Regions from separate parts of the Homo sapiens genome. Here regions 1, 3, 4, 5, 6 and 7 are each linked to region 2. Evidence: fine-mapped expression QTL. A gene starts in region 2. Each other region holds a variant in brackets. All regions are shown on one strand. Distances are from middle to middle. Region 1 overlaps ASAP2 (ArfGAP with SH3 domain, ankyrin repeat and PH domain 2). Region 2 holds the start of ITGB1BP1 (integrin subunit beta 1 binding protein 1). Region 3 overlaps ASAP2 (ArfGAP with SH3 domain, ankyrin repeat and PH domain 2). Region 4 overlaps ASAP2 (ArfGAP with SH3 domain, ankyrin repeat and PH domain 2). Region 5 overlaps ASAP2 (ArfGAP with SH3 domain, ankyrin repeat and PH domain 2). Region 6 overlaps IAH1 (isoamyl acetate hydrolyzing esterase 1 (putative)). Region 7 overlaps ASAP2 (ArfGAP with SH3 domain, ankyrin repeat and PH domain 2).

Region 1 (4,066 bases), 59 kb before region 2:
CTTTCAGAAAAATGGTCCCCATGTGCTAGCATGTGAACCCCCAGGGAGGCCATGCATGGTCTGTCTGGTTGTCTGTTCTTACGAACCTTTCCAATTCAGAGTTGCATGCCATGCAGGGCCTCGGCTGACTTGCTTATTGAAGTATGTTTTATTGTATAGTGAGTGTTCATTAGGCCCCTTGGTGCCTTGTGAAAGGAGAGTGGTGGGTGCAGCCTGGACAGGTTCTCTCACAGGAGTAGCATCTCTCCTCTTTTGGGTAAATAGAACAGCCTCTGTTTCAGGGTGACATGCTGTGACAGCAAAGGATTTTATTTTTTTAATTAATTTTTTATTGCATGTATTTATAGTGTACAACATGATGTTTTAGTATGTTGTATACATTGGGTGTGACTAAATCAAGCTAGTTAACATATCTGTCACCTCACATGCTTATGTTTTGTGGTGAGAACACTTAAAATCTACTCTCTTGAGCCTGGTGTGGTGGCCGGCGCCTGTAATCCCAGTACTTTGGGAGGCTGAGGTGAGAAGATTGTTTGAGTCTGGGAGTTCAAGACCAGCCTGACCAACATAGGGAGACCTCCATCTCTACAAATAATTTTTTAAAACTAGCTGGGAGTGGTGGCAAGTACCTGTGGTCCCAGCTACTTGGGAGGCTGAGGCAGGAGGATCACCTGAGCACCCAGGAAGTTGAGGCTACAGTGAACTGTGATCTTGCCACTGCACTCCAGCCTGGGCAACAGAGTGAGACTGTCTCAAAACAAAATTTTTAAGTATACAGTACGTTATTATTAAGTAGAGTCACTGTGTTGTACACTAGATCCCTAGACTTTATTCATCCTAACTGAAATTTTGCATGCTTTGACCAACATGCCCACCCCCAACCCCTGGTAACCATAGTTCTGCTCTCTACTTCTATGAGTTCAGCTTTTTTAGATTTTGCATATAAATGAGATCTTGCAGGATTTGTCTTTCTTTGCCTGGCTTATTTCACTTAGTATAATGTCCTTCAGGTTCATCCATGTTGTCACAAATGACAGAATGTCCTTTTTTTCAGGTCGAATAGTATTCCATTATGTATATATACCACATTTTTAAAATCCATTCGTCCATTGGTGGCATTTAGGTTGATTCCCTATCTCGACTATTGTGAATAGTGCTGCAGTAAACAAGATGGTGAAGACGTGTCTTCAACAAACTGATTTCAGATCTTTTGGGTAAATACCCAGAAGTGGGTTATATGGTGGTTCTAGTTTTTCGAGGAACCTCCATAACCATTTTCTATAATGGTTGTATTATAATAATTTACATTCCCACCCAGTGTGCAAGCCTTCCCTTTTCTCCACATCCCTGCCAACACTTGCTATCTTTTGTCTTTTTGATAAAAGCCATTCTAACAGGTGTGAGATGATCGTGGTTTTAATTTGCATTTCCCTGATGATTTGTATGATTAATGCTGTGTACTTTTTCATACATATACCTGTTGGTCATTTGTAGGTCTTCTCTTTCTCTTTTTTTTGACAGGTTCTTGCTCTGTCGCCCAGGCTGGAGTGCAGTGGTGCCATCTCGGTTCAGTGCAGCCTCTACCTCCCAGGCTCATGCAATCCTTCTGGGTAGCTGGGACTATAGGCATGTGCCACCATGCCCAGCTAATTTTTTAAAATTTTTCCATAGAGACAGGGTCTCACTATATTGGCCAGGCTAATCTGGAATTCCTGGGCTTAAGTGGTCTTCCAGCCT[C/T]GGCTTCCCAAAGTGCTGGGATTATAGGCATGAACCGCCTGCAGCCTAGCATTACTTCTTTTCCAATGGAATGGAAGTTGCATAATTGAATTATTAATTAGTTCTGGGGAATCATGTCATCTTAACTACTTTAGCACACACCAGCTTAATATCTTTAGATTCTAAAGCAAACCTACTTTGGGAAAAACTTTCTGGTAAACACAGATTTTAAAAAGATAAATTTCCTTCTTAATGTAGAAGATCATGATTTCAGCTTTGATTTTTCAGGTCATATGAAAAACAGTATCACTGGTACTAGGGTACTACTATCATGATCAATTTCACTATCATACATGAAGTTAATAAAGGAATTCTTGATATTCTGAAATTGAATTTGAGTCAGTCATTTAAAAATCTTATGAGACCAGGCGCAGTGGTTCACACCTATAGCTCCAGCACTTTGGGAGGCTGAGGCAGGCAGATCACTTGAGCCCATGAGTTCAAGACCAACCTGGGCCACATGGCAAAACCCCATCTCTACAAAAAAAAAAAAGTTAGCTGAGTATGGTAGTACATGCCTGTGGTCCTAGCTATCAGGGAGGCTGAGGTGGGAGAATCACCTGAGCCCAGGAGGTTGGCTATAGTGAACTGAGATTGTGCCACTGCTCTCCAGCCTGGGTGACAGAGTAAGACCCTGTCTCAAAACAAAAAAACATCAAATTAAAAAACAGGCATCAAGAGCATTACCAAATATTTACTGACTCAGCTTTCTGTTTCTTGACTTTCTTCTATTTCTGTTCTCATACGGTTGTTAATAAGCTGTCAAATGTTAAAGCGGGTCAACACACAGTCTGATCTGAAAGAGAGCATGTGGAGAGGAAAGCTCCTCAAAGACGAAGAACTTAACGACTTACAACTGTCTTCTAAGTTCACCTAGGACTGAAATGTGCCACCCAGATACTAAAAGCAATTGCTTAGGGCAACAGGAAATTGACTATCAGTGGTCATTTACGGAGGAACTGTTATGCTCCAGGCATTGTTGTAGGTGTTCTACGTACACTGTATTATCTAACCTAAATGGAGAGCTCCATTTTTAAAAAAAGACCAGAGAGGTTAAGAAACTTACCCAGTGCAGGATTTACATTCCAACTATCAGACTCCAGAGCCTGTGTTTTAGCCTTTTTTTTTAAAGCCAAGATTCTGAACATTTTTTAAACCACAAAGTCTATCAGAAAAAATTGAGCACCAAAGCATGTACTTACTTACATATGATGTACCTACACTTACTAAGAAATACATACTTTGTAAACTACATCAAAAATAGAGCTTTTAAAGGGTCAGGTAAAGACATCATATGTAAACTTTTTCCCTGCACACCAGAGTGTCCTTTTGTGCTCTTTGCTTTGGAGGCAGCAGTTTGGTCAAGCCCCTTCCCTTGTCTGGGCCTTTACCCTCTGTACTTTAGAGCTGGACTGCACTCTTCAGGCCCTCCACCCTTCGGGGATCCAAGGGGCCCAGTTAACATCAGGGAGGAGCTGACCTTGGGGTCTCCTGAGCTCAGCGGTCAGGGAAGTCTGGTTTCTCTCACTTGCCTGTTCTCTCCTGGGGTGAGTCAGAGAAGAATGTCACAGCAATTGTTGTCCTTCCTCATGGAGACATGAAAACAGGACAGGAGGTTTCCCTGCCCCACCCCAAACTCTCAAAACAATGTCCAGATAAAACCTAAAGCTTCATTTTGGCTCAGTGGGCCCTGCTCAGGTAGGTGCTAAGGACGTACAGGTGTGTGATTCTGTGTCTCTGTCCTGGGTGTGGCCATCAGGGAGGGAGATGCCCACACACAGACGACTCCCCCGTATGGTGAGTGCCAAGAAAAGGGGCCTCCTGGCCAAGGGACTGCTCTGCTCATCTGGGCCTGGTGCCGCTGTCCTCATAGTGTTCAGGATGAACTTCTTTTCCAGGGCTTCTTATTGACTCATCGCTACCTTGTTGAAGTGAGCTGCCATAGAGCAGGAGGGTGCCTCATGCCTCATGCCCAGCACAGACGAGGGGCTCAGAGTGTGCTCCTGAGGCCACAGGAAGGGCGACGGACTGGGCTGAGCTACCCTGGGTGATACAGAACTTAAACACTCCCTCCTCTCCTCCATCCAGTCTGGCTCAATTTCTGCCTCAGTGCAGCCCACAAATTCCTTCTGGGTGCCAGTGAGAAGCAGGAGATGCCAGGGCTCAGGTCGACAGCCACCTTCCTGCCCCCTTGGTTTCTGCCTGCCTGTCCTGCTGGCACCTGCAGCCTCCATTTGCAAATGCTTTGCTTTTGTCGATGGGTCTGGAGGGGTTCTCTATGGGCTGAAAC
Region 2 (4,056 bases):
AGCATTTATTAAAGTCTTTGATATCTGCTGCAATTTTGATGCATGTTCTCAAGCAAATCATTCTTGCCTCAAAATTATTCATGGGTGGCTCACGCCTGTAATCCCAGCACTTTGGGAGGCCAAGTCGGGCGGATCACGAGGTCAGGAGATCGAGACCATCCTGGCTAACATGGTGAAACCCCGTCTCTACTAAAAATACAAAAAATTGGCTGTGCGTGGTGGTGGGCGCCTGTAGTCCCAGCTACTCAGGAGCCTGAGGCAGGAGAATGGCGTGAACCCGGGAGGCGGAGCTTGCAGTGAGCCGAGATCGCGCCACTGCACTCCAGCCTGGACGAAAGAGCGAGACTCCGTCTCAAAAAAAAAAAAAAAAAATTATTCATGCATCAAAATGAGGCCAATGATCCTGATTGGCGATTGGATGCTCCGCAGGCTCATCAAATGCAAAGATGTCTCAAGCTGAACCCATCATCCTCCCCTCCAGATCTGCTCCTCTCCTCTCCTCTCCCTGTCAGGAGATTCTATTATTGCTGGAGGAAGCCAGAAAATCATGATTTCCTTGCTGTCCTTCAGGCCCCACATCCAATCTGGCACCAAGACCCACTGTATACCCCACCTGAAGAGCTCTCTGAGCCAGCTCTCCACCAGGGCCCCCGTCATCCTAAACCATGGGCACAGACACTATTTTTTTAGAAACTGATGAATGTGATGGATCCTCACCCTATAAAAATGCACATCCATACAAAGTTTGGCATGAATTTAAGGAATTCACAAACCCAAGGATATTTCGTGGATAAGGGACCTTGTCCTACTGGATTCCCTAACACTTTAAATCTACCCCCACACTGCAGCCAAAACGATTAAAATGATTTCTTTCAAACATGAATCTAATGCCACTAGCCTGCTGAAAATCTTTCACTGGTTCTCCAAAGTCAGAGACCAAAGTCAACGTTCTTCAGCACGACACGCCAGGTCCTCCAGGACCCAGCTCCTAATCACCTTTCCACTTCCATCCTCCACAACCCGGGCACAGTTCATTGATCTCAGCAAGGCAAAGCTGCTCCTGGTTCTCAGCGCGATGCTCCACGCGCCCCTGCTTTGCACCGCCCGGGACGTCCTTCACCTGTCAGGCACTTGGCTACTTCTTACCTTTCAAGGCCCGTTTCAGGCTGCAGGCCTTCCTGGGATCTCAAGGCTGGGGTAAGGGACCCACAGCTTGAGTGTACCCCCTGATCACAGCGCCACGATCTGCTGTGGTCTCTGATCTCACTCTCCCAGCTGCACGCTGGTCAAAGGCGGAGCTCGGTGACTCCTCTGCATTGCCAGGGCGCCTGGCAGGGGACGCGCTTACTGAAGCCGAGAACTTTCTGGGGAGGTGACACCCCAACAGCGATTCCCATGTACCAAACGCCTACCACGTGCCATGCACGGTGCTAGGTGCACAGATCCCTCTCACCCTCACCCTCACCGACCAGCAAGGCTGCAGGATAACAGCCCCTTTCAAACGAGGATGCCAAAGCGCCCGAAGAGTCAGTGACCTGCCCAGGGTCACCAGAGTAAGGACGGATGCGGCCAAGCTCGGGGCCTAGGGAGAGCCGGCTCCGAAGTTCCTCCCAGACGCCAGCCTGCTTGGCACCTGTCTGTCACCGTGATGGAGCACCTTCCAAGCGCTGGGTGCGGAGGATGTGACAGCGAAGGGGACAGACAACCCCGACCCTGAGAGGCGGGAGGCGGCCGAAGCGGGGCAGAGGAAGAGGCAAGGAAACGGCCCGCGGCCGCCCGCCTTGCCGCCCCTCCGGGGCGACAGCGGCTCGGGAAGCTGCAGTCCGCAAGCCCACGCCCGATCTGCGTGGTTCCAAGCTCCTCCACCCGCGCCCCGGGAGCGCGGCCCCGCCCGGAACCAAGCCCGAGCCCAGGCATCCCTCCTCCGCCCGCCCCGCGGCCCCACCCATCCTTCCTGGCCGTCCGCGCCGCTCTCGGGACCGTGTTCCCGTCAGGCCTCCGCGAGCTCGGCCCCAAGCGGGACGAGGGCTGGGCGCTCACCTCGCAGCCGCGGGCCCATCCCCGGGTTGCGGACTTCGGGGTCCGCGTGGGAGTGCCGCGGCCTTTGGCGCCCAGGCAGCTACTCCCGTTCCCGCTCCAGCGCCGGCTTTTCCAGCCCTCCTGCCCACGTCCGCCGGGCCGCGCCTCCAAGACTATGCGCAGGCGCAGTCCTGACGTCCTACCCCCGGTTCCAAGACCCCAAGTGGTGGGAAGCCTCGCGAGCGGCGTCCCCCGACCGGAAGTCGAGGGGAGGAGTCTAGTGCCGCGGGCTCCGGAGTGACGGAAGTTGTGCTCTTGGTGAATGGGGTTCTTCCTTTTTTATTTACCGGTGGCTGTGCTTCCAATTTAGGAAGACCCCGGCGACCTGTTCCTCACCCCCGCTTCGCCCTCACACTTTCGGGATGTCTGCGATTCCTGCTGAGGAGAGCGACCAGCTGCTGATCCGACCCCTGTAAGGGACCAGCGAGAGAGGGAATGAAGCCACGGGCTGTGAGGGGCGCGAGGGGTAACCGGAGACTGGCCTCCTCCGTCGCCCGCGCTCCCACCTACCCCGGCAGCCTGCCTTTGGTCCGCGCTTGCGGGCCAGGCTTCTCAGGCTCGAGGGGTTGGAGGACCGTTGATCGGAAGGGGCCTGCTATAGAGTGAACGGGATTTTGCTTTTTCATCAGTTTCAGGGGAGGGTATGTTGGAGTCGGAAAAAAAAAAGTTTTACGGGGCCACCGCTCGCTTTCGTACACGCTAAGAAGCGTTTTCACTTAGCACAAGCACGGATCTCTGCGCGTCAGGGCAAGCTGTGAGGGAGCCGGTGAAGCTTATGACCGACAGGATGAGAGGAGGACCTGAATGAGGCTACAGCCGTGCAGGGAAGAATTAAGTCTGTTTCTTAACACCAGGGCTTCACATGTGCCAGAAGTTAGAAAATATTAGGGACTTGCCGTGAGTTTCGATCTTCTCAGCTCAGGCCCTAGTAGAATAAGGAAGGTGTAAAGCTGGAGAAGAGAAAGTGCAGAGGTGTTAGGGACAAAAACTCAGCCCTCGACTGTCCATAAGGAGAGTGGCCTTTCAGTGGACACGATCCTCATCAGTCGGGAATGCTGCTGAAGGGGAGATGCAAATGTAGAGAACTTGAATTCCTACAGATGAGCATTTCGAACCCACAACATGTTTATTGTTAGATACTAGTTGGCACAACATGAATATACGCTTTCCAAAAGGTAGAAAGTATCTCCTTTACACAATCATTCAGTAAGGCTTCATTGAGCACCTGCTTGGGACATAGTCCGTTTCCTTCTGCTTAGTTCACACCTGTCATGTCTTCCTGTGATGAGCAAACACTGAGCAAGTGTCAAGCACCACACATGGGGATATAGACGCAACAGAGGGCCCAGTTAATTGCTCTCGCTCTTTTGGAGAGAATTACAGTGCACAGTGGGAAATATTGGAGAGATACTTTGGAATAATAGGAGACTATTACTTTGAAGTCAGACCTGAAGTCCATTATCTACTTGACCAATTAGTAGGACAACAATCTCACTGAACCCGTTTTCTCATATGGAAATAAGATAAAACTTGAAGAGTGAACATCGCGGTAGGTGCTTTGTAAATAATAGCTAATCTAAGAACGCAGGCAGGCATTGCACTGAGCACTGTGAAAGTATGGAAAAGGGATTTCTGACAGATTGAGGAAAAAAGGATACCTCGTGGATCCTGAAAAATGTGATGCCTGAGCTGAGTCCTAAAGAATGAGTAGGAGTTAAAGACTGGGGGGCCCAGGATGTTCTAGGCAGTGGAAGTGGCACATATGAAAGTGAGAGTGGTCACAGCTTGTGGCCAGATTCCTCATGGCTGTAGCTAAAGAGTTGAGTTAGCAGATGAAGCGACAGGCAGTTGAGGTCCAGTTTAGGAAGCACCTCGTATACACAGGAGTTTGGACCTTTATCAAGTCAATTACAGGGAGCCAGCGAAGGCTATTAAGCAAGCATGGATATTGTGGGAATTATGTTTTAGGAAAATCTC
Region 3 (4,066 bases), 48 kb before region 2:
CAGGTGGACTCCACACAGACAGGGACCCTGCCTGGGAATTGATTTTTTTCTTAACATTATAACAAAATGCTGTTATTCGAGGGCCTGTTGTGCCTACAGGTGGAGATGAAAACTCATGGCACTGTTGAGGGAACCCACTGAGACCACGTATCTCACACACAAGTCAGCCAGCACCGCAGTGAGCTCAGTGCACGGGTTAGCGCTGTGTGGACGGGGAGCATGTGCCGGGGGACGTTGAGGCACCCGCCTTAACCTAGGCCCTGTAGAGCGGGCAGAACTGGAGCCGGAGCAGGAGGGAGGCAGTGTGATAAAAGTGCCAGAGCACAAGTTCACCAGGTGCCCCTGGAAGTCCTTCCTGGGCTGTGAAGCATGCTGCCTGCTCAGGTGGAACGGGCACCCTGGGGCGTGATTTCCTCTCCAGCTGCACCAGCCAGCCTCACGCTGCGGCGTGTCCAGGAGCCACATGCACCCAAGGACAAGCAGATTTGAGGCCTGGCAGACGCTGGCAAGAGACCTCTGCCCACTCAGTTCCGTCTGGGTGCTGTGGGAGTAATGGCTTCTCATCTTAGGCTGGCCCATCTTCAAGGGACCCCAGGGTAGACAGGATCTCTACTCCCTGCCTCCAGTGGCATGTCCAGGGAGCTCAGGCTCCCCTTCTGGGGGGCCAGTTGTTCCACGGGGATTTAGGGCAGGTACAGAAAAGTCAACAACTGCTCCAGCAGCCATGGCCCCTTGCCATAGTCAGCTGAGTGAGAGAGCGGAGGTCAGGAGGGAACCGTGCGGGGACTCCAGCTCGAAGGGGAGCAGCCGCATTTGTCCTCAGATTGTAGGCAGTGCTGTGTTACAAATGGATGCAACTGATCTGCCCCTGCCTGGCTCTTGCCTGATTCTCAAGATTCAAAGAGTCCCTGGGCAGTGACCCTCAACCTTCAGAATTGGGATTGTAAAATGCATGTACTCTGTGACCAGTGAGCTGCTGTTTCGCTCTCCCTCTTGTAAGTTCACTGGGTCTTTCCAAGGCCCGGGACCCACTGTGTGTGCTGCAGGTGTGTTGACGCACATACGTCTCATGGTGCTACTGTGAGGATGTATTGTGTGCATTTTCGCAAGTCAGACTTACAAGTCTAGAGAGATGAAATACTTATTCAAGTTCAAAGCAGCAGTGTGTGGTGGGAGTGGGATTTGAACTCAGGCTTCTTTGGCCCCCTTTTGTTCCTGCTTCTGTAGGCTCTTTGGATGGGGCGGAGTCTGAGCATGTTGCCACATAAAGGCCAGAAAGTAGAACACAAAGAGGACTGCCATTTCATTTCAGTTCATCTGATAGTGCCTTTCATACCAGGCATGGTGCCTACAAAAAAGAGGTCATAGTCCATGCCCCAAGGAGCTCATGGGCCTGTCGGGCAGTGAGGCAGGCAGGCCTTCATGTAGAGAATGTTGGAACAGAGGTTGGCCAGGGCTGCATGGAGGGCAGGGGCAGGGCCTTCCTGGGGGAGGAGGCGCAGGGCATGCGGATTGGAAGGACCTGAATAAGAAGGGTGTGGAGGTGACGAGGGCGACAGTGAGGTCAGATCACAGAACTTAGGAGTGAGGGGAGGGAGACAAGGCAGAGAGGCGGGTGGGCTGAGAGAACATGGGGAGTTGTCCCCCTGGCCAGTTCCCAGGAGGTCGCAGTGAAGACCAGTGCAGCCGTAGAACCACATGGCGGCCACTCCCGCTTTGTGTTTCGGGGCCAGCGGTGCTTACCAGGGACATGGCGCAGGAACCGTTAACATGGCCTTAGACAAAGGGAGGCCGGACGGCGGGTAGAAGCCCTTCATGATTTGCAAGGCAATTACGTTTGGTTTCAGGAATGCAAGAAAGGACTACATCACAGCCAAGTACATCGAGAGGAGATACGCAAGGAAGAAGCACGCGGATAACGCGGCGAAGCTTCACAGTCTTTGCGAGGCCGTCAAAACGAGAGATATTTTTGGATTGCTCCAAGCTTATGCTGATGGTGTGGATCTTACGGAAAAAATCCCACTGGCCAACGGACATGTAAGAGTGTGGGTTGTTGCTACTTTAAAAAAAAAAAAAAGGCCGGCCACGGTGGCTCATGCCTGGGATCCAGTACTTTACTTCAGGAGGCCAAGGCGGAGGATCCTTTGAGCTCAGGAGTTTGAGATCAGCCTGGGCACCATAGGGAGGCCCCATCTCTACAAAAAAAAAAAAAAAAAAAAGTAAAATTGGCCAGGCATGGTGGTGTACATTTGTAGTCCCAGCTACTCAGGAGGCTGGGGTGAGAGGAATCGGTTGAGCCCAGAAATTTGAAACTCCAGTGAGCCGTGATTGTGCCACTGGACTCCAGCCTGGCCGACAGAGTGAGACCTTGTCTCAAAAAAAAAGGAAAACTGGGGCACTGTGGCAGGTCTGTGGAATCAGCAGTACTGACCAAAGCTGGGTAATTCTCCAGAGGAAGACGGCACGGAGAGGGGTACTGGGGTAGAATAAACTAGGG[T/G]TTTTTCTTTTCAGTAGGAAAATAATTGTATCTATGTTCATGGGGTATGCTGTGATGTTTTTGATCTATGTTTACATCATGGAATGATTACATCAAGCTAGCTAACATATCCATTACCTCACAGGCTCATCCATTTTTAATGGAGAGCACATTTAAAATCGACTCAGTTTTGAAATAGACGCTATGTAGTCTTACCTGGAGTCACCAGGCTTTGTAGTAGATCTGCAGGATTTATTCTCCTTGTCTAAAACTTTGTACCCACCTAGTGGTTTATTCTTACACCAAAAATGTAATGCCAGCTCTGGAAAGAAAACCCATCTCCAGGTGGAGGAGAAGACATCTCAGAAGCTAGGCAGCCTGAGAGGGACCCCTCATCTGCAAGCAGGTTTAACCTGAGCTTCATGCTAACGAGAGAAGCTCTCTGAGAGGGGCGGTTCCCTGGAACCCACACCCCACTGTGCTCCCCCTCAGAGGGAATAGAGTAGGAGCAAGACCCCTCCTTTCCTGGGGGAGCTGTCTTGAGAGGGTGGGCATCCAGCTGGAGTGGGTTTGCAGTAACATACCAGCACCCAAGTGGGGTGGCATGTGTCCAGATTCTGGTCCACAAATACCCTGTAGATGCACATTTGGTCCCCTGGAACCTCCTGACCTCAGGACTGGGCTGGCTGCCTATCAGCAAGGATGCCTCACGGCTGCAGCATCTTTCTCTTGGTAACAGGCATGTCCGTGCAGGCTCTGAGCTGGTCCCACTCTCTCCCCATCCCCAGAAAGAACTCATGCCCACCAATGCAGTGTGGAGGGTGCCCAGCACTGAGCTGTGCTGCCGCCAGAGGGCCCAGCAGGCAGGGCAGGCGGCCTGGGAAGCACCTTCCTTTGCCCTCACCTCCTGTCTTCTGTATCTGTCCTTCTCCTCTGGTTCTCTCACCCACCCACCTGCTGAAACAATCCTTGTTCATCTCTTCTCCCCCACCTGCCAGGTGTACTTTCAGAAAAGGCAGTGGAGTTGGGGAATCCCCAGTATGAGTTGGAGACAGTGCAGTTATTAGCATTCGTAGCCTTGTCTGTAAGTGTAGAACGCAAAACTTTAAGCCTGCTTAAGAAACATATGTTTCTACTCAAGGAGCAGGTAAAGAGATTGGATTGTAGGTGGCCTGGGGGACCTTCCTGGATCCTTTGAACAAGATTCTTGCTTGCAGGCAGGGATCTGCCTTGTGGTGCTGATGCAGGGATGGGGACAGGTCGATTGAGAGGACTTAGAAATGAAACTCCTGAACTTCTCATTTATTTCCCATGGAGTCAGGAGAAACAGGACGAATCTCCAAATTGCACGTTCCCAAGGGCAAAGAGCTTGTGTAGAGATTAAAGAGACTCTATGTAAGAGATAAGTTTCTCGAAGGGAAAGATAAAAGACTTTTGGAAGAGTTGTACACGATTTCACCGGTGTTGGACACAGAATTGAATGCTCCCATTAGAATTCTGGAATGCCTTTGTTTGGTTTTTCAGGAGCCGGATGAAACGGCCCTCCACCTTGCAGTCAGATCCGTGGATCGAACCTCTCTTCACATTGTA
Region 4 (4,066 bases), 94 kb before region 2:
CCAGGGCATGAATCAGCAGCTTTTCCAGGGGACATTCCATTTCAGAGATCATCTTCTGACAGCGGAGGGGATGGGGACTCATGAAGTCCTTCTATTTCCTGACACTGGTTTTGTAGCTCCCTGAGGCTTTCTGATAGCTTCGTGGTCACTAATGAATTCTCCAAGTTAAAAATAGCTTTAATTCATTTCAATTAAACTTTGTTTTTTTCCAACAATCACATTATTTTCCTTGTAAGGGAAATGTCTCAGGACGAGAGACATGATGCCAAGCATCTCAGCTACAATACGTTAGCAGTTATTGTTCCTAAAGTAAGGGACCTTGGGCAGGAGTGTGTTTGAGATGGTTAGAAATCCCATTTATTTGAACCATCCATAGTCTTCCATGTAGCTAGAGTGAAGATTTCTCCTAGCAGGCCAGGATAGACTGTCTTATTATTAGGAGTTTTTGGCACTTCAATATTTAATTATCTGACTGTCAGATAATTCATATGGCCCCAAAATAAAGAAACGGTTACGGAATCCAGGCGATACTAAGTGTCGATCATGCACTCTACGCATTGTAAAAGATGCCAAAGAAGTAGAAGAAATCATCTCAGTCCTCAGAAGCTCCTTTTAAACTCGTATTCTGCTTACTTCCATGACATTTCCTTTTCATTGTTCAACAGTATCTGCTGAAGGTCAACGAAATCAAGATTAAAAAGGGAGTAGATTTACTTCAGAATCTGATCAAATACTTTCATGCCCAATGCAAGTAAGTTCTTCTCTGTTATGTTATCTTAAATGTTTGTTCATGTGTGGCAACTTCTGGTAGATCTATAGATAGCTCATAGGAAATAAACACCACTTAGAAGTCTATAGTAAAGGGAATGAGGTGCTGACTCATGCGACAACACGGGTAAACATTGAGAACACGTTCAATGAAGGAAGCCAGACACAAGAGGCCATGTACTGTATGATCCCATTTATTTGGAAGGTCAGGAATAAGTACATCCACAGAGACAGAAAGCAGGTGAGTGATTGCCGCAGCTTGGAGGAAGAAGGAAATGGGAAATGGCTGCTAACGGGTATAGGGTTTCTTTGTGGGATATTGAAAATATTCCAGAAGTGAGTGCTAATGATTGCACAACTTTGTGAATTTACTAAAAATCACTTTAAAAGGATGAATTTTATGGCTTTATGGCTTAGGGATTATATCTTAATTAAAAATAAAAGCATATATACAACATAAAAAATCTGTAGTAATTGCCAGATATATTTATTTTTGGCTCTTTTTGTAGAGGGACAAACTCATTTGACCTATTCCGCAACTCTCAGATGTTTGTTAAAAGAGAAATGATACGATGTTAATGCAGTGTTTTAAAATAAGAAAACACTTTTATATATTATCCTGTGGAGCCAATGACTGTGATGAGCAAAGGAAGATGTTAGTAGAGGAGAAGGAGAGGATTCCACGTGCAGGGGCTGCTCAAGTACTCAGCTTTGCCATCTGTGTCAGTACTTCAGTCTGACCCACGTCTCTGACCTGGCTTCTGCTCCTCGACCCCCAGTCACTGATATAGACAGGCCTCTGGCTCCTTCACTCACCCACCCAACACACATGTCAGGTGCTGGACCAGAGGCGAGAGACACAGTGATGTACAGTGCTGGCATAGTTCCTACTCAAAGAGTCAAGTAGGGAAGTTAGACTGAAAGAGACAAATTTCTAATTAGATGTTTACAAAATTGTTTTAAAGTATAGGAATCTAAGAAAGAATATAATACAGGGACCTGATTTAGATAAAGATTTAGGGTAGAGTTTTTTGTTTTTTGTTTTTCTATTTTGTTCCCTGATACAGTCTCCAACAGCCAGCACACAGTGCCCGGAACACAGTAGGTACTCGGCTGTTTCTTGAATGAGCTGCAGGCCTCTCTGAGGAGACATGGATCTGAGATCTAAAGTATGAGTAGGAGCCGGCAGATAAG[G/A]AGTGGGGGAAGAACATTCCAGGCAGGGTCTAGGTCTTAAGGCAGGAAAAAGGCCAAGGTGACATAAGCTCAGTGAAAAAGGAGAGTGGCGTGAAACGAAACTGCATGGAAAAGCCTTAGGGATGTGGATGGCCCCAGACATCTTGCAAAAGTTTTTAGATTTTATCCCAAATATGTTGGGAAGCTCTTGAAGAAATTGAAGCAGAGGACCATTTGTATGCACTCCTGTGATCTGCCAGGCGCTATTAGGGGTTTTGGTGATGCAGTAAGGAGGAAAACAAAGTTCTTGCCTTCACGGACCCTGGGGTCTCATGGGGGAGGCAAGTAGGAAACACGAGCCAATATTTAACTGAGTTTATGAAAAGGCAAAACAGTGATGGGGAGAGAGACAGTGGTGTTGGTTAGAAGCAGCTTCAGGAAGCTTCTCGGCTGTAACAAGATTACTCTGTGTGTTGTGGAGAAGGAACCAAACAGGACAAGGGTGGATGTGGGCAATTGCTTGTGTACACAGCTCCTGTCCCTGTGCAGACCAGAGATGACGATGGCCCACCTGGCTTCGTGACAGCGGGAGTGGAAGGTGTGGACTGACAAGAAATCTTTTCCTTGTGGAATTGCCATGCCTGTCTGCTTACCTTCCCAGAGCAGGCTGTGCCACCAGCAGCCTACCTTTGTACAGAATTGTTTCTTTTCCTAGAAGGCCTCTTTCCTTTGTGCCCTCCCTGTCTTCTGTTCCTCCTAGGACCCAGCTTATGGATCATTCCTGCTTTGCGATGCTTCTTCCTTTTGGAATTCCTTTTCTTCCTCCTGTGTTGCCACCACACCGTCTGCTTGTCTCCATGATGACATCTTCCTTGTGTCTCTGTGCCACTGAACTATATGCTCTTAAGGAAGGGGCCATGCCATTTATTTGTTTTATATCTACAGTGTGTGGCACATTTACCTGGCACGTATTTGCAGCAGTGAATTGCACTGTGGAATTGAACTGAGCTCTGCTTTGGAATTCTTAATACAGCTTTGATGATGTTGCATTTCTAAAGCACTTGAGGTCAGGCGGCAAAGGAGGATGTGCTGAGTGGTTCATCCAAAGTTAAAAGAGAGCTTCAGCCATTTAAAAAAAAGAAGAGTGAAATCATGTCTTTTGCAGCAATAGGGATAGAACTGAAAGTCATTATCTTAAGTGAAACAAGCCAGCCGCAGAAAGACAAATATCGCATGTTCCCACTCCTAAGTGGGTGCTAAGAAAGGCATACCCATGGATGTAGAGAGTAGAGTGACAGCAGAGTCTCAGGAGGGTGAAGGGAGTGGGGATGATGAGAAATTATTAATACTTAGTAGGTACAATGTATGTTATTCTGGTGATGGATACCCTAAAAGCCCTAAGTTGACCACCAGGCCTATAACAAAACTGCACTTGTACCCCATGAATTTATATTAAAAAATATAAAAAGAGAGCTCATCTCTACTTGGTGGAAAAGACCTTGCAATTATATAGTTTTCAAGATGAATTATTTTATGGAGACTCAAAATTCTTACTTTGTGATGAGCATGCAAATTACTTCTACAGTTCTTATGTCAGGCAATTTAGGAAGTGGGTCGCTTCCTTGCTGATATTTTATTTTTAAGAAGAAGCTATTCTGGGATTTCCTTCCCCCGCCCCTTTATTTTGCCCAAACCAGTCAGTTGGGTAGCAACAGACCACTTGTGGAAAAGTGAAGTAGTTGGCCTTTTATGGACATGATCCCAGTAACCTTTAAAAATATGAATCTTCCATTACTTCGTTTTTGGATATGAGAGAGAGTGTGTACGCTGCCTGCTCTTCAAATCAGTCAGGCAGCTTTGACTTTCTCAATTCACATTCTGGAGGGTACAACGTGGAGCTCGAGCAACTCAGCTGCAGAGTAAGAGCTCGCAGCCGTGCGTGTTTCCACGTGTGGGAGCGCCTCTCATTCCCCCACCACACACGCCCAGTTTCCGCTTCTCGCCCCCAAGGGCACAGCTTTGCCTGCTGGGTGCTGTGCCCTGCTGGGTACACGCGGGCCTCTGCACACTGCTGTGCTCCGCCAGGGTGAAGAGGCCACTGTGTAAACCAGATTCCAGGGCTCAG
Region 5 (4,066 bases), 110 kb before region 2:
GGAGGGAGGGATCACATTCTGCTGGGGTTGCTTAGTAGAGAAGGTGGCGTTTGAGTAACTCCTGATGGATGAGAAGGCTTTGAACAGCAGGGATAGGGAAGACGTTTCCGTCGAATAGAACAAATTGAGCACATGCGTAGAATCAGGGAAGGAGAGAGTTCAGTTTGGAGAAATATGAAGATGAAACATGGAAAATAAGGATGGATTGTGGAGAGTGTGAAATGCAGGAATAAGTAGTTTAGTCTTTATTAGGGACACAACCCCAGACAAGCCTGCCATAGCCCTGAAGCGGGGAGTGGGGCAGGCAGAGACTAGGAAGCGGCAGCAGGGAGCAGGGGAAGCCATAGCCTTAGTCCTGAGAAGGAGCAGTGAGGCGCAGCCAAGGCAGTGGACGTGAGAATGGCATGGAGGGAATGTTGGAAGACGGGTCTGCGTATGTAGGGTTAAGACCTGGAATTTGTTGAGAAGCGTGCCGCACGGCTGGGTGGCAGCACTGGGGTCAGAGATGACTCTTGGGTGTCAAGCAAGTGAGGAGGGTGGGAGAGAGGGCTTTGTAGGAAGGAAGAGCATTGGAGGAAGGAGAGCTGGCTGCATACTTGGGGCTGCCTGCAAGTAGAGGGAAATGTGGCCCTGGAGGCGGGAACTGTGACGGGAGTTTCATTCCTCACTCACCTGTCTGGCTGCCAGGACTGTCAATGACAGTGGAAATCTAGGCGTGCTTGCTGTCGTAGGTTACTCATCAGCACGGCCTTCTGTTTGTCCTTGTTCCTTCCAGTCGTTCCTAAGACCGCACCTTAAACTGCGCTTTTCAGCATTTAAAAATTTAATGCTTAAGGCTGATCTTAGCAAGACATAGCTGATGACATTGTACCTTGGAGGAAGGCCAGGTACGTGAGAAATGTTGAGTTGTTTAATCCTAGGGCAAAAGTTCCCCAAAAAAGTTTATTTCTGAAATGACAGTCATTAATTGATCATTTATTTAGCAGAATTGGCTGTGGATGCAGACGTTATTATACACCTTACCAGTGTTTTCCAAGTACATTTCTGTTTCTAATGTAAAATTTAGTCCAGGCGTGGTGGCTCATGCCTGTAATCCCAGCACTTTGAGAGGCCGAGGAGGGCAGATTGCTTAAGTCTAGGAGTTCAAGACTAGCCTGAGCAACACAGTGAAACCCTGTCTACAAAAACTACAAAAAAAAAATTAGCCAAGCATGTTGGCCCGTGCCTATAGTCCCAGCTACTCAGGAGGCTAAGGTGGGAGGATCGCCTGAGCTCAAGAAGTTGAGGCTGAAGTGCCCTCCAACCTGGGCGACACAGTGAGACCCTGTTTCAAAAAAAAAGAAAAAAAAATTAGTACACTGAATGGTGTATAGAAATCGGATGCCATATTGCTTTAAAAGTGGTGCCATTTTATCTTCCTATTTAAGATAATTATACTAAAAATAAAACTTTCCTTTGCTTGATGGTATGAATGAATACATAAGGTCCCAAGTCCCTCTTCTCGTCCTTCTCCTTCTCTGGGCCTGTAATCTAGAAGCCCAGAGTGTCACAGAAGCCACAGGGGCCCAGCAGTGGGAACTGGCCCTTGGGTTGATTCAGGGGAGTGGTCCAAGCCTGGGAAGTGCGAAAGTGGGTTTCGAGCTCGTTTTCCACTTGAGGGAGGGAATCTTTTCAGGCTCAGGGCTCTGAGTCCGTACTTGAAGGCTCTTCCTGACTGAAGTTTCGCATCTTGAGTTGACTCGCATTTGAACTGCTGTCACGGAGACTTGCTTGCTCCTCGTGTACCTGTTGGTTAGGAGGCTTCCATTCCACCCAATTTAATCCATGCGGACGGTGTGTGTCCCCACTCTCCTGCCTTCTTGCTTCAGGGAGAAGAATGGGGGCACCAAGGCTCTTGCCCTTCCTGTTCCCTTTTATCTCCTTTGCCTAGCAACACCCCCCCAACACACACCCCCTCACAATCACACCCTCACTCTCACACCCTCCCACACACCCCCC[G/A]TCACACCCTCTCATGTCCACTCTCATACACTCTCACAACCACACTCACACAACATGCAATCATTCCCAATCACTCACATCCACACTCCACACAACCACACAAAATCACATCCACACACACACTCAACCACACTCATACCCCACGCAATCACAACCACACAACACACATCCCAATCACACCCACTCACATCCACACTCTCACCACACTCAACACACACCCCACGCAATCACACCCACTCACATCCACACTCACACAATCACACAACCACACTCATACACACCCCGTGCATCACACACACTCATATCCACACCCTCACACCCTCACAATCACAGCCCCCCACATCCACTCACACAATCATATCTTCACTCACACACACCCTCACACAATCATTCACATTCACCCCCAACTCACATCCACACACACACCCTCAAACACACACATGCTCCCTCACACACCTACACATACTCACATTCTCACACACACATGTGCATTCACCTTATACTCAGTCACTTACACCCTTACACACCCACTTACACCCCCACAATCACACCCCACACTCAAATCCACACAATCTCTCACATCCACAATCACACTCTCACACACCCACACACCCGTACACAATCACATTCACGCACTCACATCCACAATCACACCCACACACACCCATACACACATTTACACACTTACACAATCACTCACATCCATAATCACATCCTGAAACCCTCACACGCCCACACACACCCATACACAATCACATTCACACTCACATCCACACTCACACTCACATCCGTACACAATCACACCCTCACACACCCATACACAATCGCATTCACACACTCACACAATCACACCCTTAGTCCCTTAACATGCTCCCTCACACACCTACACGATCACTCATACCCACATTCACTCACATACACCCTCATGTGCATTCACTCTTATACTCAAGCACAGTCACACCTTTACACACCCACAACACCCTCACTCAGTCGTACACACTCATTGACACACACTCTCCGTCCCCAACACACACACGTCTTTTCTCATTCGCACCCAGCATTCGCTCGTGTGCCTTTGCAGCAGACAGAAGACTCTGCCTTTGTTTCCCCTGCTTGGAGCTTGCTGTGGAGACTGGGGCCTGGGGCCCAGAGCACCAACCCCAGTACAGTCCAGCTTATGGGTGGAGCCGTGATTGAGAGTCAGAAGTGGGGGTTTCCTTTTATTCTAGGCTTTCGACGTAATTCTGTCATTGAATGTTTTGAAATATTTTTTCTTCACTGCAATGATTGTCTCTTTACAAACTTTCTAGCATAACAATATAAGATTGTTACTGTGAAATATATACAGACCTAGACTTTTCATTAGCCCTCTATTCATTTGTAAGATGAAATTGTTACAAAGAATGTATGACTGAATAAGGCACAGTACATGCACCGGCCAGGTTTTAGGTGGAGGTGAATCATTATCAAATGTTCTCTCTAATGTCCTTGCTGTCCTTACTTTAGATTCACAAGGAAGCTGAATAAGAATCTCCTTTTGTTTTTGTTTTTTAGATTCAGAATATGAACAACATAATCTCCTTCCCTTTGGACAGTTTGCTGAAGGGGGACCTGAAAGGAGTGAAAGGGGTATGACATTGACACTGTGACACCAGGGGCAGCTTTTACACCATGTAGAGTCACAGTAGCTTGGCCTGCCGGGCAGCAGCCACGCCAGTACGTTCTCATTGGGACGATAGGATGGCTCTTTTATCTCAGCTTCCTCTGATTTGCCATCTTGGGACCACCTTTCAGCCAAAAAGGTGGTGACTTCTGGCCTTTCTGGCCGTCCTGTTGGCACAACAAAGTTGGTGAGGGGAGGAGACTGGGAAGGGAAAGAAAACTGCTATTTTGGAAAAAGTAAAGAGTTTCGGTCTCTCCAGGGAGCAGGGAAACCTGTGGGAGGAGTCGGGCTTTCTAGCTGGCACGTTGCCCATTTAGCACTGGGAAAGGATCCTAGCAAGGGTGTATTTTCCTGCTGGGAAGGTCGCAGTCGTCAGGCATGAGCCAACTTTGTCTCTCTGTCCTT
Region 6 (4,066 bases), 66 kb after region 2:
AAAAAAAAAAAAAAGTCACATAAGCTAGTTGGCCACCCAGATTCTAACAGAGCTCTTGGCTAGTGAGATTCTTCCCCAAGAAAGAAATGGCTGTATGGGTAAAATTCTTATAGTTCAGGGCCTGGTATGGCTGCTCATGCCTGTGATCCCAATACTTTGTGAGGCCAAGGTGGGAGTATTGCTTGAGCCTAGGAGTTCAAAACCAGCCTGGGCAACATAATGAGAGACCCATCTCTACAAAAAGCACAAAAATTAGCCAGGTAGCCAGGTATGGTGGCACGTGCCTGTAGTCCCAGCTGCTCAGGGGGCTGAGGTTAGAAAGATCGCTTGAGCCCAGGAGGTTGAGGCTGCAGTGAGCCATGATCATGTCACTGCACTCCAGCCTGGGCAGCAAAGCAAGACCCTGTCTCCAAAAATATGTGTATCTTTTTAAATATGTACTCTTGAGTTCAGGGCAATGGGAGGGAGACTGGACTCCTGTGTCCCAGCAATTACTGTTCTAGGTTAGATGGTAGAAGTTCTTTCTGCCTAAAAACCTGCCTAGAGTCAAAAACAATATTGACTCATGGGGCCCCTGAACACTCCTAATACCAAATTTTTCATTTTTGCTGATTACGTTAATAGGCCATATTTACCTGTTAAGGTTCTTTCAAATAACCTGAGAATCATGTCATATGATTCAGAAGACCTGGAATGAGGTCCCAGCTCACTTAATGGTGAGTGACTTTCATGAAACTCAATTCTATAATATGGAGACAGCACTATAGCACTAGTCAGGGTTCTCTGTGTGTTCAAACACCTACGTAAATAGCACATCAGTGCTACTGTAGTCCAAGACACCTCTGGTCAGATGCCTACAATGAAAGGGGCTGGTGATATTTCTGTCGCAGGGCCACAAATGAGAGAATGGTACACACTGGCATTTAGAAAAGTTATACCCTCCCTCCCCGGCCTTTTTGTGTGTGTGTGTGTGTGTGTGTGTGTGTGTGTGTGTGTGTGTGTGCGCGCGCGCGCGCGCGCTGTGGGGGGAGACAGTCTATCACCCAGGCTGGAACTCAGTGGTGCAATGATACCTCACTGTAGCCTCCAACTCCTGGGCTTAAGTGATCCTCCCATCTTCGCCTCCCAAGTAGGTGGGAATACAGGTGTTTGCCACCACACCCAGCTAATTTTTGTATTTTTAAAATTTTTTGTAGAGACAGGGTCTCAAACTCCTGTCTTCCAGTAATCCTCGGCCCCAAAGTGTTGGAATGACAGGGGTGAGCTACCACACGTGGCCAGTTACCCACCTTTAACCGATTTCTCTCCCTTCTAGGACTTCTCATCTTATTTATCAGATGGACTACATTTGTCTCCAAAGGGGAATGAATTTTTGTTCTCGCATCTCTGGCCTTTGATAGAGAAAAAGGTCTCTTCTCTACCTTTGCTGCTTCCTTACTGGCGGGATGTAGCAGAAGCAAAACCTGAATTAAGTCTGCTGGGAGATGGAGACCATTAGCCAATCACAGGAGACCCAAATCTGCTTGTTATCTACAGAACTCAAAGTTGTCAATACGTAGAGGTACGCTTTTTTCCTCAGGCTTAAACCTTTGCCACTGATATTAATAATAAAAGTATTAGATGATTTTTCAGGGA[A/G]GTTTTATACTTAGGTCCATTGTGTTTCGACAGTATTTATTAATGCAGATATCAGTGCTACAGCTATAAAATATACCCTGAGCAGCTTGTTAATTCTATAAATGACAAAGACTATGTTTTTAAAAAGTCACAATTTTATAAAAATGGTTTTTCTTACATTCTTTTGAGAACTGTTTCACTCATACATACACCCACACACCCCACTCAACCTTGTATCAAATTCCAAAAGTGTAACTAAAGTATAAGAATATCATGACTAGTTAAAAGATAGCAAATACCATAAGGTACAAGTTCAAGTATTAGTATAACAAGTATCTGAGTAACAAATGTCCTTGGAAATGGGGGGTAGGAGGAGATATGATTAGTCACAGGTTTGGTTAACTGCCCTCAAAATTTACAAGTTAAAATGTTTTGGCTGGTGAGCACATTTCAGTTCTTAGGGGAAAAAAAGCTTTTAATGGCAATTTATAGAAATCAGAATCCAGGCTAATGATTTTTATCCTTCACACAGTAAATGCAGCCCATCCAGAATCCTGGAGCAATAAAGTAAGAAGTAATTCAAATATCTGCTTGTGGGTCAATAAAAAGGGTTTCTGAAGTATCAAGTCTTGTGGGGACAGCCCCCAACCCTAAGGGCAGGTAGTATTCTATCTCCTGGCTGGCTCATCACATTCAAAACAACCTGTTTTTTTTGTTGTTGTTGTTGTTAAGAAATATCTCACCCTCTTATTCAATAGTGTTTGAAAACAGGCAATCTTTGTATTTTAAATATTCTAGGTTTGTAGATAGTGAATTTTTTTTTTTTTTTTTTTTTTTTGAGGCAGAGTCTCACTCTGTCACCCAGGCTGGAGTGTAGTGGCGCAACCTCAGCCTCTCCAAGTGCTGGGATTACAGGCATGAGCCACCACTCCCAGCCAATAGTGAATTTTCTAAGAGCATGTATCCCTATCAGTAACAGGGATACATGAAGATACTTATAAAATACAGAAAAACTGCCCAGCAAATCAGGGCCCTAAACAGTTGGTAGATTCCATAAATTCAACTGGCTACCATGTATAGCCCTCACTGTAAGGTAGGTGGTTAGGTTTCTAGAGAGCATTAGTCTTAGAATTATGAAGAGCCATATTAACCCAAATGATTTCTAAATTTAGATATATATTTTCCCTGCTACATAAAAACTCTGGGTAATAACTAGAAATAGACCCACAATTTAGAGACAATGTATACTAGATTTATCTCCTTTGTTTTTAGTTGAAGGCAAAAAAAAAAAAAAAAAAAAAAAACTATTCCAGTTGTCATCACAAATAAATGCCAAATGCCTCATATTCAGCGGTTCATTACAGTGTATAAAAAAAAACTGATCATTTCCCTAGTCAGTGCTGTTATCAATATAAAAGATTAATTTACAAAAACGTAAATATTCATAACCCAATCCAGCTGTATTTTCTGCTTTTGCACCACAGGTCAAAAGATATTTTAAAAACTAAAACCTGAAAGCCTCAAAATAAGCTAGATTCACCTTCACCTTACCTTTTCAAAAGGAGAAGGGCCAAACCACACAAGAACTGTTTACCTGCAGGAAGTTCAAACACATGACCAGCATCTGCTAAGTCACTTCCCAGTCTTCACAAAATACAAGCTGTGATTGATTTGTAGGTCAAATCTATAAAAATATTTTGCACACTTAAGTCAGAAGAGCTGAGAACTAAATTAGCACTCTGTTTCTTTGCTGTCAACACGATTCTGACGCTGCAGTTTAAAGGAGGCAGCCTTTTCACTTCTGGTGACCGGATGGTCCGTGAGATCCTCAAATGACTTGGCAGCTGTGCTGCTATTTGGGAAGGGGTCCTTCTCAAACCCATCCTCGTCCATATGTGAGTCTGTGCTGGGGTCTTCCTGGATGGTGTCCATTCTCTGGTGGTCCAGTTTTGGAGCTGCTGGCGCCGAAGGGATCACAGGGGCAGGCTGCAGGCGGCCTGGAGTCTGGGGCGCAGGAAAGGGTTTGATAATGCGAACCGATGCAGAATCCATGCTGCTCAGCATTTCGACGTTCTGCAAAGACATGGGTTCAATTGATTGATAGGAATAAAAGATGAATCGGAGGTCCTCACAGCTCCACCCTTACCCATCAAACAGCCTCTTATTCTGTTGGCACTGTGATGCTAAGAAAAAAGTGCTAGGTGAGGCTCACTCAACCTAAGTGACTAAAAAATACTAGGTTGGTGCAAAAGTAATTAATGCCATTACTTTTAATGGCAAAAACAGTAATTACTAGCTTTCAAGCATCCTGAAAACTTACTTACCATTTGAAGACCCAAAAGAGGATTCAAACCTCTCAAGGTAAGATCCCAAGAGAGAAATTGAACTCAAAATATTAACTAAGTGTTGAATGGCTAAATCACTCCTTATGGCTTGGGAAGGGGACAGCACA
Region 7 (4,066 bases), 140 kb before region 2:
CTGTTTGAGCGCCTCCTATGTGCTGGACATTGTGAGTGCCATAGACAACTGCCGTGTAGTAGCTGGTCTATAAACATTTGCTGAATATTATATATGAGAGTACCTCTATCTAATTATTCAACCCTGCAAAGTGGGTATTGTTCCTGCTGGTTTCTGGAGAAGAAATCTGAGGCTCGGGAAGCAATAGGACCCGTCTTCTAACACAGCTTACAAGCTAATGATATTTGGGTTTTTCCAAATCCAGAGTGGGGTTGCCTCCACCTTGTTAGGGCTCTATAGGGGGAAGGGGTGCAGGCACGATAGGAGTCCCTGGCAGGCAGGGGCATCCTGGAGCCTTGCTGGTAACCAAGGAGAACGGAGGGTTCGGCTGGAGTAATTCACTTCGCTGCAGAGGGCTCACGTCCAGCAGGTGCTGTGGGCAGGAGACAGCTTGCATGCTGCAGGAGGAGGAGTTGGTTTTCAGTAATTGCCAACAAACTTCTGCTTAGTGCCATTTGGAAACCAGTCTTCCACACCACACTGAGGGCTTGTCTCCCAGAAACAGGTGCCGAGGGACCTGGCAGAGGAGGCTTGTCTCCCAGAAACAGGTGCCTAGGGACCTGGCAGAGGCAATCAGAGTGGCACTCAACGTGGTGCTCGCTGCTAGCGTGGTCTCAGCACAGACACGGTTTAATGACTGTATTCTCTACATTTTAGGCTTTGGACGTGGACCGGATGGTTCTTTACAAAATGAAGAAATCCGTGAAAGCAATCAACAGCTCTGGGCTGGGTGAGTATACATCCTTCCCTAGAGGTTTCTGTGTGGAAAATGTCGCATTTGAAGTCCTGGTACCGTAATATTGATGACCATTAACAAATGAGCCAGCTAGACTCCTTTATCGGGGCATGCAGATCACAGAGGTGAGCTGGGATGTTTCTTTTTCAGAAGTATGTTTTGTTTTGCCAGTCGTCTGATTCAGGTGTGGGATTTCGTCCCCTGTCATCCCCTGTCATCCTCCGTGCTGTCTGTCCCACGTTGCACTTCCTGTTTTCTGGAGCATCGTCCTGCACGTACCCACTTTGTCAGCCTGGCTGATGGGGGCCTGGATTCATTCCTGCCTCTGTCATTTGGTTTTTGCTGTTAATTGTGTCACAGTGCCCTTTCCGTTTCTCTTTTACCCAGTCTTGCCTTTTCTAGTATAGGAAGAAAATGAATAAATAGACAAACATAAAGTAATATTTGATCTAGATTTACACATACATATTTTTTACACATATATATTTACACATATATATTTTTTAAACCCATGCAACTTTTGGCTTAAAGATGACAAGTAGGTCACCTGTAGCATACCTTCCCTTGTACAAATCCTACGAGTGATACAAAATATTTTTTAAAAGTCGTTAAGTGACTATATAGTTTCATTCAGCAACAAAAAGGTGGCATCCTTGCAGGGCTAGGAACTGTGAGGAGTCCCTGAGAGACTGAAACAGGGCTGATGGGTTGCTCAGGGGAGCTTGCCCGTGCTCAGGTGCAGATAGAGTTTGGGTGACAGGGTGGGAGGAGGAGGGGCCTGGGGTCTGCTCCCACTGAAGTAGTCAGGTCCCTTCATCTATACTGTGTCCCCTCACCCTCGTGGTGTCTTTCTTTAGTGAAAGGGGTGATTGGAACAGGAGGACAGGGAGTGCCTTAGATGGT[C/T]GTGGTGTCAGGAGGGAAGGGGAAGAGCCTGGAAGTACACATTCCACCTGCTCCCCCCCACCGCCCCCACCAGTTACAATAGGGCGGGCACAAGCTCCAGTTGCCGCTCTTGATTCTCCCCCCATGAGAGCTGTGCAAGCCACAATCGGGAAGAATCTAGCAGGAAATCCCAGGTGCAGGATAATGTTACAGTTGAGCATTGCCAAGTGTATTTAGGAACAAATTTAACAGAAGACGCACAGGAATCCTACATCAACAAGTACAAAACGCTGCTGACCAAAATGAAAGAAGACCTAAATGAGAAATATGTGATGCACAGGGGTTAGAAGAGTCACCACTGTTAGTGTCAGGCCTCCCCAAACTGATCTGAAGATTCACCCCAACCCCAGTCAGAATTACAGCAGCGGAAATTGACAGGCCTTTTCTAAAACTGATACAGAAGGTGGCCATCCGTCTCTAGCTTTTTTACCTGGATTAAGTGTGGGGCAGGGAGCAATAATGATAGTTTTGATTTTTTTGAACACTTACTGTGTATCTTGTGCTTTCTGTACATTGTGCTAATCTTGTCAACAACTGATTCTCCTTATACAAATGAGTAACCTGCAAATCAGAGAGTTCTGGGTGTTCCCAAGATGTCTGTGCAGCTGGAGCTCAGACCCTGATGGTCTTACTGCTGTGTCAGGGTTGTGTGCAGTGAGTGGCCCACTCTGTTTCAAAGCCACCATGCCTTCAGTGTGTCTGTCACACGGGTGACATCTTGAAGACTTCAGTGAGTCACTAAGAAATGGTACGCCCAGTTTCATTGACAAGCACCAGATTTCAAAAAGTATCTTGGAAGATTTTTTTTTTTTTTACTGCGTTCACTTGGACTTTTTGAGTTTATAACTTGAGGGATATTTGATATTCTGGTCAGACTCAAAAATGATTTTATAGTCATATGTTGAAAAGGTTGCTCTTATCAGAAATAAAAATGAAATAATCTGTGTCTTATGCAAACACTGGCTGTGTAGCTGCTGCTCGTCTGGAGGAGAGACTTGTGTGACTCCCAAGGCTGGCCCAGTGGCTGGCAGTACAGCTTATAAACAGCCCTGCATTTGAAGGGAGAAGGCGCTAGTGCTTCGGTGTCAGGAAGCTGGCCTGCAGGAATTTAACAGCACCTCTGTCTAATTTGCCATGCTGACCTATATTGCTGAGCGTGTACCACAAACCTCATTCCTATTTCTAACCACCCCCAAGCGTCGTTTGCTAAAATGCAACCCCACTGGTGTTACTTCTCTGCCTAAAACTCTATAGCATTTTTTCATCACCCTCTTTGAAGTTCGTGGAAGTCAGTTCCAGAGCATGGGAGAGAGAAGGAAGGCCTCTGTGGGCTTCAGAATTTTAGGGCAATTGGGATAAAGATGGTTCTCTTACCACAGATCCATCCAAAGATTTTAATGTGCTAGTAATGTGGATTGTGAGTGGTTATCGTTCTTAACCCTTTCCCAATTCATCTGTCGATGAAACTGTCACTGCCTCCCCTGATCACCCCACTGTGAGCCTCAGGTGAGTAAATACTGCAGAGCACCAGATGAGTTCCGAGCTCTTGTGCATTGCCTGGACTCAGGCCACCTGTCCCGACCCTCCCCACCTGGACTCCTCTGTGCCCTTCTTTGAAATAACTTGCAGTTTTCCCCAGAGAGCCACGTTTTATGCCTTCTTCCCTCTGCTCATGCTCTGCTGTTTGCTTAAAATAGCATTTGCCACTTTATGAAAGAAAACTGAGGTCCAAGGAAGTTGAGAAGTTTGTTCAAAGTCACAAAGCTCTACAGTGACAGGGCTGGGATTTTAACGTAGCTCCTTGGGCTCATGTCCTTTTTGAGGCCCCGCACATAACAGCCTGGCATGTGACCTTGGAGGGGGTCTCCTATTTTTGTCATCCTTTAGCCATCTATTATGTCATGCCAAGTTTGAGTTATTCTAAGGTCATGAGTCTGAGTCCTGAAAAGTCCTAAGTCCTAAAACCAGAGCCTGATCCTGAAATCTTTATTTCGGAACAAGCGTTGTCTACTGCAAAGAAGTCACCTGAGGAAACGTGATACTTTCTCCTGTCATGTTGATGACATCATTCACAGTGTCTTTAGAACTCTTTAGAACTGCTTTTAGTAGCACGTTCTTTTGCATATATTTAGTAGAGAAGTCTAAGGATAGATTAAATTTTTTTAGAACTAGATGTCAGAAATAAGTCAGGCATATTCAAGAAGGGACTGAGTGCCAGCGACCACAGTTGGCTTCGGTGCACTGTAACTACAGTCATGGGCTCTGAAGGCAGCTGGTTCCAAAGGAGAAGTCCCCATAGTGTTTTGATCACGAGAATAAAGACCAAAGGCAATTCCTGTATAGGAAGAG

What was found. PIP is the estimated chance that this variant, and not a neighbour inherited with it, causes the effect.
Region 1: its variant is the best candidate, but not a certain one, in a credible set for the expression of ITGB1BP1 in whole blood (TOPMed, PIP 0.83).
Region 3: its variant is the best candidate, but not a certain one, in a credible set for the expression of ITGB1BP1 in monocytes after LPS (Fairfax 2014, PIP 0.82).
Region 4: its variant is the best candidate, but not a certain one, in a credible set for the expression of ITGB1BP1 in whole blood (TOPMed, PIP 0.54).
Region 5: its variant is the best candidate, but not a certain one, in a credible set for the expression of ITGB1BP1 in lung (TOPMed, PIP 0.66).
Region 6: its variant is the best candidate, but not a certain one, in a credible set for the expression of ITGB1BP1 in whole blood (INTERVAL, PIP 0.50).
Region 7: its variant is the best candidate, but not a certain one, in a credible set for the expression of ITGB1BP1 in whole blood (TOPMed, PIP 0.58).

What each region holds. Positions count from the first base shown.
Region 1 is chr2:9,362,088-9,366,153 of GRCh38, forward strand. All of the region lies in intron 15 of ASAP2 (ArfGAP with SH3 domain, ankyrin repeat and PH domain 2), which reads left to right. Among named protein-coding and RNA genes, the nearest start is that of ITGB1BP1, 59 kb to the right of the region's middle. RefSeq lists an enhancer at 3,093-3,387. The variant C/T (reference allele first, on the strand shown) is at 1,738.
Region 2 is chr2:9,421,333-9,425,388 of GRCh38, forward strand. It overlaps ITGB1BP1 (integrin subunit beta 1 binding protein 1), which reads right to left and starts at 2,196. Exons shown (of 7, transcript NM_004763.5): 1 at 2,041-2,196. It overlaps CPSF3 (cleavage and polyadenylation specific factor 3), which reads left to right and starts at 2,322. Exons shown (of 18, transcript NM_016207.4): 1 at 2,322-2,491. The coding sequence starts at 2,442. RefSeq lists enhancers at 647-1,505, 1,499-1,548, 2,419-2,468, 2,509-2,558 and a silencer at 1,689-1,988.
Region 3 is chr2:9,372,908-9,376,973 of GRCh38, forward strand. It overlaps ASAP2 (ArfGAP with SH3 domain, ankyrin repeat and PH domain 2), which reads left to right. Exons shown (of 28, transcript NM_003887.3): 17 at 1,848-2,037; 18 at 4,001-4,066. Among named protein-coding and RNA genes, the nearest start is that of ITGB1BP1, 49 kb to the right of the region's middle. RefSeq lists enhancers at 559-1,107, 1,108-1,656. The variant T/G (reference allele first, on the strand shown) is at 2,498.
Region 4 is chr2:9,327,161-9,331,226 of GRCh38, forward strand. It overlaps ASAP2 (ArfGAP with SH3 domain, ankyrin repeat and PH domain 2), which reads left to right. Exons shown (of 28, transcript NM_003887.3): 7 at 666-751. Among named protein-coding and RNA genes, the nearest start is that of ITGB1BP1, 94 kb to the right of the region's middle. The variant G/A (reference allele first, on the strand shown) is at 1,963.
Region 5 is chr2:9,314,972-9,319,037 of GRCh38, forward strand. It overlaps ASAP2 (ArfGAP with SH3 domain, ankyrin repeat and PH domain 2), which reads left to right. Exons shown (of 28, transcript NM_003887.3): 4 at 3,553-3,627. Among named protein-coding and RNA genes, the nearest start is that of ITGB1BP1, 110 kb to the right of the region's middle. The variant G/A (reference allele first, on the strand shown) is at 1,999.
Region 6 is chr2:9,486,832-9,490,897 of GRCh38, forward strand. It overlaps IAH1 (isoamyl acetate hydrolyzing esterase 1 (putative)), which reads left to right. Exons shown (of 6, transcript NM_001039613.3): 6 at 1,316-2,911. The coding sequence ends at 1,498. ADAM17 (ADAM metallopeptidase domain 17) reads right to left here. Exons shown (of 19, transcript NM_003183.6): 19 at 1,655-3,687. The coding sequence ends at 3,346. Among named protein-coding and RNA genes, the nearest start is that of IAH1, 14 kb to the left of the region's middle. The variant A/G (reference allele first, on the strand shown) is at 1,636.
Region 7 is chr2:9,278,621-9,282,686 of GRCh38, forward strand. It overlaps ASAP2 (ArfGAP with SH3 domain, ankyrin repeat and PH domain 2), which reads left to right. Exons shown (of 28, transcript NM_003887.3): 2 at 697-769. Among named protein-coding and RNA genes, the nearest start is that of ASAP2, 74 kb to the left of the region's middle. The variant C/T (reference allele first, on the strand shown) is at 1,679.